Linked DNA regions of Homo sapiens: region 2 is linked to region 1. The links come from fine-mapping of genetic effects on gene expression. A gene starts in region 1. The other region holds a variant in brackets. All regions are shown on one strand. Distances are from middle to middle.

The links. PIP is the estimated chance that this variant, and not a neighbour inherited with it, causes the effect.
Region 2: its variant is the best candidate, but not a certain one, in a credible set for the expression of CDKN1A in whole blood (TOPMed, PIP 0.53).

Annotation. Positions count from the first base shown.
Region 1 is chr6:36,675,938-36,681,303 of GRCh38, reverse strand. It overlaps CDKN1A (cyclin dependent kinase inhibitor 1A), which reads right to left and starts at 2,590. Exons shown (of 3, transcript NM_000389.5): 1 at 2,506-2,590. It overlaps DINOL (damage induced long noncoding RNA), which reads left to right and starts at 2,745. Exons shown (of 1, transcript NR_144384.1): 1 at 2,745-3,695. RefSeq lists silencers at 588-977, 2,548-2,777 and enhancers at 1,709-2,296, 2,308-2,497, 3,690-4,889, 4,869-4,938, 4,989-5,078.
Region 2 is chr6:36,602,664-36,607,969 of GRCh38, reverse strand. It overlaps SRSF3 (serine and arginine rich splicing factor 3), which reads right to left. Exons shown (of 6, transcript NM_003017.5): 6 at 2,370-5,306. Among named protein-coding and RNA genes, the nearest start is that of SRSF3, 11 kb to the right of the region's middle. The variant C/T (reference allele first, on the strand shown) is at 3,407.

The DNA of each region.
Region 1 (5,366 bases):
AAAGAAAGAAAGAAAGAAAGAAAAAAAGAAAGAAAGAAAAGCACCTAGGGAGTTTTTTCAAAATATAGATTGCTGAGGCCCTGCCTCCCGAGACCAACTTAATCCAGATTGAAGATTCAAGCAAGTGTTTGGCACAATTCCTCAGATGGGCACTCTTGGGTTGCCAGCCAAGCGGAGACACACTGGTATGTTTGAAATGGACATTCTGGGTCTCAATACATCATAGGCACAAGGAGGAGGCGCCCGCCTAGGGCTTCATCAAGGTGCTGGATATTCCCTGGCTCTCGGGAGTTCAAGACAGGACTAGGATCTAGGCAGGCACCCTCTCCTCTTCTACCACCCCTCCTTCTCTTATGGCTCTCATAGGCCTCTCCTCCCCCATCAAAATCTGCTCTCATGCTCATAATAACTTTCAGCCCAAAGAAAACTCAGAAACGCAAACCCTTGTTTTAGAAACAATTAAAAATAGCCTCCTTTATTGGCCTTCCTGCCTTAGACTTCAGCCATATTTTAATTTCCAGTAAGAGCTCAGTGAATACTGTTGAACCTAAGGAGTGCTCCTTTGAAGGGGTGGTAATGGCATAGGGGTTGATCTCGGATGAGCCCAGGAGTAGCCGCGGCGGTTCGCGCCGGCCAGCCCCACTCCGCGGGAAAGCCTGTGTGCTATTCCCGCCAGGGCCGGGAGGGGGCGCCGGCCTCCAGGAAATCACGCGCGGAGTGGGAGGTGCGTGGGCAGAGCCTCGGACCGCTGGAGGGAGTAGTGATGAGTCAGTTTCCTGCAAGGCGCTGCTCGCCCGCCAAAACTGCTTCCACTCCGGCTGCGCGTCACCCTGGGGTGGGGAGGGGGAGAATGGGAGGGGACCGGGGGGCCGCGAACACGTCACGCTGAGCCGGCCAGGCTTCCGAAACTCCCGCCGCTGTTGGGAAACCGCGCGCTCTTGTGCCGTCTCTGACACAGACACACACACACACACACACACACACACACACACACACGCCCGCGCAGACACGCACGCGCGCGCGCGCCGGGAGCCGGCCCCTCCACCTTATCTCCACGCCCAAAGCACGGGATGAGTCAGATCCCTGGAAAATAAAAATAGACGGGAGCAACGAAAACAAAACCGCTCGCAAGTCCTCCCAGAAACGCGACGTGGAGGGAGGCAAGGAGAGGGGAAGCTGCCTGGGCGCCCCAAGTTCCTAACCCAGCTCCAAGATGCTTTTCCTCACGAAGAGGGCGCAAGTGTCCCCCAGGGGTTTGGGACGGAGAGGACGCGCTGTGGTCCGCGCCAGGCGGCGGCGCCCCAGGGGGCGACTCGCCCCCCTGCTCCGCTCAGCCCTGTAGCTTTCGGAGAGGGAATCTGGGCTAGGTCGGGAAGCCCTGAGCCCCCGAGGCAGCTGATAGAGGCCCTGAGCAGCGTCGTGCCCCCCAGACCCCCCACCCCTCAAAGACATGAACCCTCCCCGCCTCCCATCCAGGCGTGGGCTCCGCTCCCGCCCCGGAGTCCAGCGCCCCGACCCGAGGACAGGCTGGGCCGCGATTCTCCCGGCCGCGGTGGGAAAGAGGTAGAGGAGACCCTTGCCCTTCCCCGACTGACAGGCTGGTTAGAGCCCGCCCAGAGCAGGGCCGTGACTCCCCGACCCCTACAGCGCGCCGCGGAGCGGGGACCCGACGCGGTGTCCCGGACCTCCAGTGCCCGGCTTCCTTGGGAACAAACTGTTCCAGCCAAATAGGTCACTGTGCCGATGGGAGGACGGAGACCGCGAAGGGGCAGGGGAGAGGGCTTCTGGAGTCCCGCTGTACCCCATCCCGGGCGGGGTTCTGACCTCATACAGTCCGTTCCCTGGGGTCTCCTTGTCACAGTGAGTCACCTCCTCGCTAGTCCTTAGGGGACGGGTCCTGGCACATTCCCAAGGGCCAGGAAACAGCCCGCGCTGACCTCAGCGCTCAGCCAGGTGGTGGACACAGTGGCGTAAAGGACCTGAACCTGGGACCTGGGCCAGGGCGGCGCAGATTGGATCCCAGAGCCACCCGGGACCGATCCTAGACGAACTTACTCCACTCCGCTTTCCTCGCCCTTCCTGGGCCCCTCCAGGGACACGGACTTCATCCCCACGCCGCGAGCAAACTGCGCCTGGGGCCTGGAGCCAACCGCAGCCAAAGGCGAGCTCCCAGAACGGTCCCGTCCACGCCCTCCCTCGCCCCAGCTGGGTTTCCAGGGGCGGGGAGCGTGACCAGGGATTCCTGTACTTGTAATCCCGCTCTCCGCCCCGGGGTCTCCGGCACATCCCGACTCTCGTCACCCGCGCACTTAGAGACACCGTGTGCGCAAGCCGAGCGCGCACCGACCCACGCCCGTCATTCACCTGCCGCAGAAACACCTGTGAACGCAGCACACACCCGCGAACACGCATCCTCGCGGACACGCAGGGACACACGCGGGCACGCTTGGCTCGGCTCTGGGCCGCCGGCCCGGGGTCCCCTGTTGTCTGCCGCCGCTCTCTCACCTCCTCTGAGTGCCTCGGTGCCTCGGCGAATCCGCGCCCAGCTCCGGCTCCACAAGGAACTGACTTCGGCAGCTGCTCACACCTCAGCTGGCGCAGCTCAGCGCGGCCCTGATATACAACCGCCCCGCCCGGGCCCGCCTCAAGGAGGCGGGACCCGCGCTCGGCCCACCGCGCCGCCCGGGACCGCCCTCCCCGGGGCCCAGGCTCCTGGCTGCCCAGCGCCGAGCCAGCTGAGCCTGGCCGAGTTCCAGCAGGCCAGCCGGTCCCGGAACCTCGCGTGCTGCAGGAGGGCACTTCCCTCCTCCCCCAGTCCCTCGCCTGCGTTGGTGCGCTGGACACATTTCCCCACGAAGTGAGCCACAAATCTGGCTTTTTTTACTTGGAGAATGAGTTGGCACTCTCCAGGAGGACACAGCACTGTTAGAATGAGCCCCCTTTCTGGCTCACCGCTGACCCACTCTGGCAGGCAAGGATTTACCCAATGCAGCTGAAAAGATCAGGAGGATGACATTAATACATAAAAATTCATAAATTATAAAAACGATGCACCTCTCTGCAATTTCCAGAAAAGCCCCACAATATCACCTCTATTCCCACTGATCCCTCACTAGGTCACCTCTCCCAGAAGCACCTGGAGCACCTAGACACCCCAACAAAGCATCTTGAGGCCAGAATGATTTTTCAGTCCCGTTTATTTCACAGATGAGGAAATTGAGGTCCACTGAACTTAAGTATACAAAGTTGTTGATTGTCACATGCTTCCGGGAAGGAGGGAATTGGAGAGACTACCAAAAAAGGGCAACCTGATCTCCAGGGAAACAGAAGAATTGGACATTGAACCAATCTCCCTACACCCTACACTCACCTGAACAGAAGAAATCCCTGTGGTTGCAGCAGCTTTGTTGGCCAGGAAGGGGAGGATTTGACGAGTGAGTTGTCTGTCTCCTGAATACTCCCCACATAGCCCGTATACACTGCTGGGGAAACTGGGGCTCAGAGAAGTCTGGTGACCTAACTCAGATCATGCAGCAAAGAAATGACTATAGTTGGAACACAGGACTTTTGCCTCCTGCCCGGGGCTCTCTGCTTGTCATCCTTTATTTCTGTGGCTCCAAAATGACAAAAATGCCAAATAACCCTCATTTGCAGATGGTTTATGGAGATGACATAAATAAAGGACAATTCTGGAAGTGTCTACTGGTTCTTCTGACAGACACAGAAATGAGTGATGTGTCTATCCGCTCCCATCTACCTCACACCCCTGACCTCCCCTGGACTTCACCTTTGCCTCCTTTCTGTGCCTGAAACATTTGCAGTTTTGCTTTTAAAAAATTGCAGAGGATGGATTGTTCATCTGAACAGAAATCCCACTAAAAAACAGAACCCAGGCTTGGAGCAGCTACAATTACTGACATCTCAGGCTGCTCAGAGTCTGGAAATCTCTGCCCAGACATGCCCAGTCTTCTTCCTCTAACGCAGCTGACCTCGGGGAGGACAGGCTTCTTTCTCCTCTGCTGTGGGGATGGGAGCCCAGGTAGGGGTGGGAGGACACAGTAGCAGACCCCCTTGGCCTGCCTCGCCCTGGAGTCAGGCCAGGATTGTGGCTAAACCCCAGAAAGGCCACGGCACAGCCTCAGGACCCCACTCTAAGCCCCACTGCTGTCTGCACCTTCGCTCCTATACATCCAAACCATCCAAAGGGCTGGTTGTCAAATGTCCAGCAGAGGACAGGCACCTTCTCCCACTGCCTTGAAGCCCCTCTGCTTTCAGGCATTTCAAATAGACTAGACATTGTCTGTCTGTTTACTTTGGGGAGAAAATTTTTTTTAATAAAGGCTTGTAATGAATTATTTAAATTTTTGTGGTACTGAGCTTCACAATGAAATAATTCTTTTTGTTGTTGTTTTTGGGAAAGAATTTTTTTTATAACTTCTAGCTCACCACCACCACGACATTCAATATTTCTTAAGTACCTACTAAGTGTCTAGTACTATTCAGTGCTTTAAAAAAAAAAGTTTGCAACCATGCACTTGAATGTGTACCCAGACACACTCTAAGGGAGGACTTCTGCCCTGAAAAAGGCAAGGGAGCAGGCTGTTAAAAGTCACACACAGAATCTGACTCCCAGCACACACTCACACAAGCACACATGCATCAGATCCCAGCCCTGTCGCAAGGATCTGCTGGCAGATCACATACCCTGTTCAGAGTAACAGGCTAAGGTTTACCTGGGGTCTTTAGAGGTCTCCTGTCTCCTACCATCCCCTTCCTCACCTGAAAACAGGCAGCCCAAGGACAAAATAGCCACCAGCCTCTTCTATGCCAGAGCTCAACATGTTGGGACATGTTCCTGACGGCCAGAAAGCCAATCAGAGCCACAGCCTGCTGCCCAAGCATGTTCCTGGGAAGCAGGCAGCATAGGGATGGAGGGAGGCTCAGCCTGGGGGACAAGAGTGCCCAGTCCAGCCCCCTCCCCAGAGTGCGGTGGAGCAGCATGGGGTAGGGGAATGGTGAAAGGTGGAAAGCCCAAGCCTGAAGAAGGAGGATGTGAGGAAGGCTCAGTGGTGGCTGCAGAAGCTGCCTAGGAAGGGAGAGGAAGTGCTGGGAACAATGTCACCATTTCTCAGAAAGAGACTGGGGAGTCCCAAATAGGGGCAGTCAGCTTTCAGAGGAATTCACCTTCACACAGGCTCCCAAGAAGTGAGACCCCAGAGAAGAGGCGGAACAAAGATAGAACATTATTGAGCAGAGGCAGCCCTGGCTTTTTGTTTTCATTTTGTTTTTTTGTTTTGTTTTGTTTTTTGAGACAAAGTCAGCAGTGGCACAATCTCAGCTCACTGCAGTCTCCGCCTCCCAGGTTC
Region 2 (5,306 bases), 73 kb after region 1:
GCTAGAATGAGCGAGCCAGCCATTCATCAATGCACTCTAATACTCCCAACTTCTTGGCTTTCCTGTCAGTGTTAAAGCTGGACAAGTTATCTTATACACGCTTGTTCAAATACATGGCTAAAGGAAAGTAAAAAAAAACCAATCAGATTTGGACCCACTTCAAACTTAAATAAACCCTTTTATCTCTAAATCCTAGTGCAGTTTACATTCTCAACTGTTTCTGGCTCTAAACCCCTATTTCATGATTAAGGCATTTATTTCTTCCTCTTCACCTCAGATTGGTTAGTCTCTCCTTATCATTTGAATGTGAGCTCTGGAACTGGGATGGCCAGTTGCAGTGGCTCATGCCTATAATCCCAACACTTTGGGATTACAGCCAAGGCTGGAGGGGTCCTTGAGTGCAGCCTGGGCAACAGTGAAATACCATCTTATAAAAAACAGCCTGGGGCGGGGCGCAGTGGCTCACGCCTGTAATCCTAGTACTTTGAGAGGCCAAGGCGGGCGGATCATGAGGTCAAGACATCGAGACCATCCTTGCCAATATGGTGAAACCCGTCTCTACTAAAAAATACCAAAAAATTAGCCAGGCATGGTGGTGCGCACCTGTAGTCCCAGCTGCTCAGGAGGCTGAGACAGGAGAATCACTTGAACCTGGGAGGCAGAGATTGCAGTGAGCTGAGATCACACCACTGCACTCCAGCCTGAGTGACAGAGTGAGACTCCGTCTCAAAACCAACCAACCAAAAAGAAAACTGGGGTGAAAATGAATTGTTAAAGGTCAACAGCCTAAACTTGCACTCCAGTCAAACACAAATATTATATAGATTTTTCTTTCTAGATATTGAGCTGGTGTTGTGATTTATCACTGTATCCCAGTCAGTGTTTGTATCATGGACTTTTGACATGTAGGAAAATTATGAAACAATTAAATGACAAATCAACATTCCAATTTGTATTTGTAAAATACTTTCATTGAAAACATGGGTAGTTTTATCTAAACTAAAAATAAATGTCATTATGAGATTCTGGTGGCAGCCAGCCAGCTGGATGAGGTTTTTTAAAGTTACCAGCTGCCTGAGCTTAAGATTTAGAATTGTTTCCCAAAGGAGTTATTCTTTCAAAAATGAAACTTCTAGGCCGGGCACGGTGGCTCACGCCTGTAATCCCAGCACTCTGGGAGGCCGAGGCAGGCGGATCACTTGAGGTCAGGAGTTCAAGATCAGCTTGGCTAACATGGTGAAACCCTGGCTCTACTAAAAATACAAAAAGCAGCTGGGCGTGGTGACACGCGCCTGTAGTCCCAGCTACTCGGGAGGCTGAGGCAGGAGAATTGCTTGAACCCGGGAGGCGAAGGTGGCAGTGAGCCGAGATCGAGCCACAGCACTCCAGCCTGGGTGACAAAGAGAGACTCCATCTCAAAAAAAAAAAAAAATACATAAATAACATTAAATAAAAAATAAACTTCTGTATCTCAAGACTTACATAACATTTTTTTAAAATATTCAAATATTTCCTTCTCCAAATGACCAATATAAACTTCACATCTCCACCCCACCCCCTCCCCGACCCCCCATTGCCACTGCCCAGCTCCAGGCAGCATTAGGCAACAACTTCAACAACATTCCCCTTAGCTCTACATTTTGGGGCTTTGTGAGCAAATAAAAAAACAGTGAACAACGCTAACTTGGCCAGGGAAAGGTGACTCAGGCCTGTAATCCCAGCGCTTTGGGAGGCTGAGGCAGAAGGATCGCTTGAGGAGTTCCAGACCAGCCTGAGAAACATAACCACGTCTCTTAAAAAAAGTTTTTAATTAGCTGGGCATGGTGGTGTGTGACTGTAGTCCTAGCTACTTGGGAGACTGAGGTGGGAGGAACGCTTGAGCCCAAGAAGCCAAGGCTGCAGTAAGCTATGTCACCACTGGTCTCAAAAAACAAAACAAAAACAGGAATGCTAACTTGCCCCAGATGAAATCTGAATGAAGTATATACTGAAATAAAGGTGCACAACCACAAATGAACAAGGCTTTCAAAAGAGGAGGACTCCTTCAACCTATAGACTACTTTTCTGGAAGGTTTAATTTTGCCCTGGAAATAGTATCCATCTCAGGACATTCCAAATGATTAGGGAGAAGCAAAGTATCAATGTTTTGATATTTCCACTTGCTCAAGACACATGTACTAACTTACAGTGAGGCACTACATGGCCATATTCTACATCTTTTATAGTAGAACAACTATACAATGCCTTACATCAGAAATGAGGAAAACTAAAGATTAAAACAGCAATGTTTTACACACGTATTTCATGTGTTAGTTTAGGAATCATTTTGGGTACCTTCATCAAATCGACAGAGAAAGCAGGATACTAAATGAGAATCTAAATACTGTATTATTAAGTACAGAGTCCAACAAGGGGAAAGTTGCATGGACAAAACTAATCAATTATACTAGGCTTACCAAAACAAACTTTTTTTTTTTTTTTGGAGACGAAGTTTTGCTTTCACTCAGGCTGGAGTGAAGTGGCTACATCTCGGCTCATGGCAACCTCCACCCACCAGGTTTAAGCACTTCTCCTGCCTCAGCCTCCCAAGTGGCTGGCATTATAGGCGCCTGCCACCACACCCAGCTAATTTTTGTACTGTTAGTAGAGACGGGGTTTCACCATGTTGACCAAGCTGGTCTCCAACTCCTGACCACAAGTGATCCACCTGCCTCAACCTCCCAATGCACCGGGATTACAGGCATGAGCCATCACACCCAGCCAAAACAAATTTCAATGACCTTGTCTCAGAACCTTAAGGGGTCTACAGCTGAATTATCTTCAGGTACCCGATGAATCCCCCTAATAAAACAGGATGAAAAAAATTAGAGTGGACATAAAATCAAATTCAACACTACTGGATTATTTAGAGAAAAATGTACTTCCAACCCAGTTTTTCTTCAGTAACTTTAACTAGAAATCTTTCTCGAAAAGATGGAAAACCAGAAGGCAACAATCTGGTAGTACAAAAATATACAACTAAGAAATTACCACCAACTAGGTATGACAACTAAATCTCATTCAGAACTCTGAAAAAAAGCATACTTGGACAAAATACTAAACTAGTGGTTCTCACATCACCAAGGGTATTTATCATGTAGAACTCCTCAAAATTACACAGGGTTAGGTCACCCTGAAAAACTAAGTCAATGAGCCTGGAGTCTGGCTGTATCTATTCTGAAATACCTCTTCAACAAAATTTCTAATTAGGCAGCACTGTACTAAAATGAATGTAGTAATAACCTGGATTTTCCATCCACATATGGGTTTGTGTGAAAGCCACTGACAGCAGTCTAACAGGGTGGGAGTGTCATGGACGCTGACGGGATCACGTTTGTAAGGATCTCTAAGATACTCAAATGGTAGA[C/T]ACAGGGTACCTGTGCTTGGTAAAACTACAACTTCCCTACTTTCTGCTTAAGACATGGAGGTCAGAAGCAACCCACAATGAACTGTGAACCAGAGATCAAACTAAATATTCCTTTTAATAGAAATGTGAATCTTGCCATGTTGGGCAGACTGGTCTCCAACTCCTGGCTTCAAGAGATCCTCCCACCCGCCCTAGCCTCCCAAAGTGCTAGGAATTACAAGTGTGAGCCACCACATCCAGCCAGTGTCTTTGAAAACAATCAAATATAATCCTTAATGTTTCTTTACATTGTCATCAAGTATTAGTAACAGTGACTTCTAGTGAACACCTTGATCCTTAAACCACAGGTCTAAGTTCAGTTTTGTGATTCCTTTCATTTTTACACTCAACCCTGAATATGGACAAGACCGGTTAGTGTGACCTGTTATTTTAGGAATTACAACTTTAAAAATTCCTAATAGCCACAATCTAAATGTGCAATTCAAAGCTTTTAACAATTTCCATGTTCTAAAGTTTCTAAGAGTCTTGAGGTTATGCTAGGGCTCCTGGTTAAAGTAACTGCCAACTGGGACTGTATGTCACCTAAGTCAGGATAACTCCCTGGTGAAGTTACTTTTATTTCAGGTTCTGTATTATTTCTCTTAGCCATATTATACCCGTAACTGTCCTTTTTACAGAAACCCTTCCAACTTAAGAGCCTGCAAGGAAGTCATATACTGCCCAAAAATGCCCACATAAGTTGTCCATTTATAAAAAGCAATGTAATTGACATATTGCATGGCTTCCGTAACTTCTTAGCTATCTTGGCTTGTTCCTAACAGGAACAGGTTGTAGGCTATGTGAGAATACTAAAGACAAAATGCCCAATGCCAGAGCTCTCAGTAAATAAACAGGCTGTCTGAAAAGTGTCTTTCTTGAACATGCTTAACTTTAAGGCTGAACCTTCCTGACACCAATTCTCCCAAGATTTGTGTAAAAGGTGGAAATAAATAATTTGTTTAGGAACTGTATCTTAATGTATCCATTTAGCTTGAACTCTTAATGCAATGACTTATCTTTCATATTTAAGACAGTCAATACCGCATAATCCAAAACTATCTTAAGAGCATATTTAAGGAAACTAAGCCACAAGACTGTTGCATTATGATTTAATCTAATTGCACAAAAATTTGAAATTACAACACCTGCCATTTTCTAAGAGGAAGGTTATGCATGCCTCCATATTCAATTCTGCACTGTTACATTTGAACCATATTGTGAACTTTTACATCATGATGGATCAGCTTAGAATTCCCATGCAACACCTCAAATTATAAAATGGAAGCAATTTTTAGACCTGTGGAAAGTTTTCATGCTAAAGATAAAAGCCATTTGTTAATGGGCAACTTACTTTGTGTTTAAGAACCAGGTTGCTGCTATACTTTAAAATGTTGGTCACTAAATATTATGGACCCTGAACTGGCTTCTATGCCTAAAAAAAAAAAAAATGGGTTAACTATCACTTAGGTGACATCTATATTTCCTTCACTTCAGAAGACTAATCCATAGTGCCTCTCAGCTGTTTCTTATAAAATAAGAATCGTGTAACCAACTGCTTCCCATGGGATAAGAACAATGGTAACAGTGGGTTCAACTGACTATACACAATTATGCTAATATTTTATTAATTCAAAAGCACTTTACAAGAAAATATAAGTATGGCTTCCAATAGGAATGTTATACCTGGACTTGGTACCAAGCTCACAGATTTGAGTTTGCAAGGAAAAACAGGCTTTCAAGTTAAAGAACAATTTGTAACCAAAACTTTAATCCCAAGGATTCTCACAAAACATATTACAAATGACAGCATGAAAAAAAAATCTTGCACAGTAACTCAAAGTTCGGCTCTACAATGTACCCT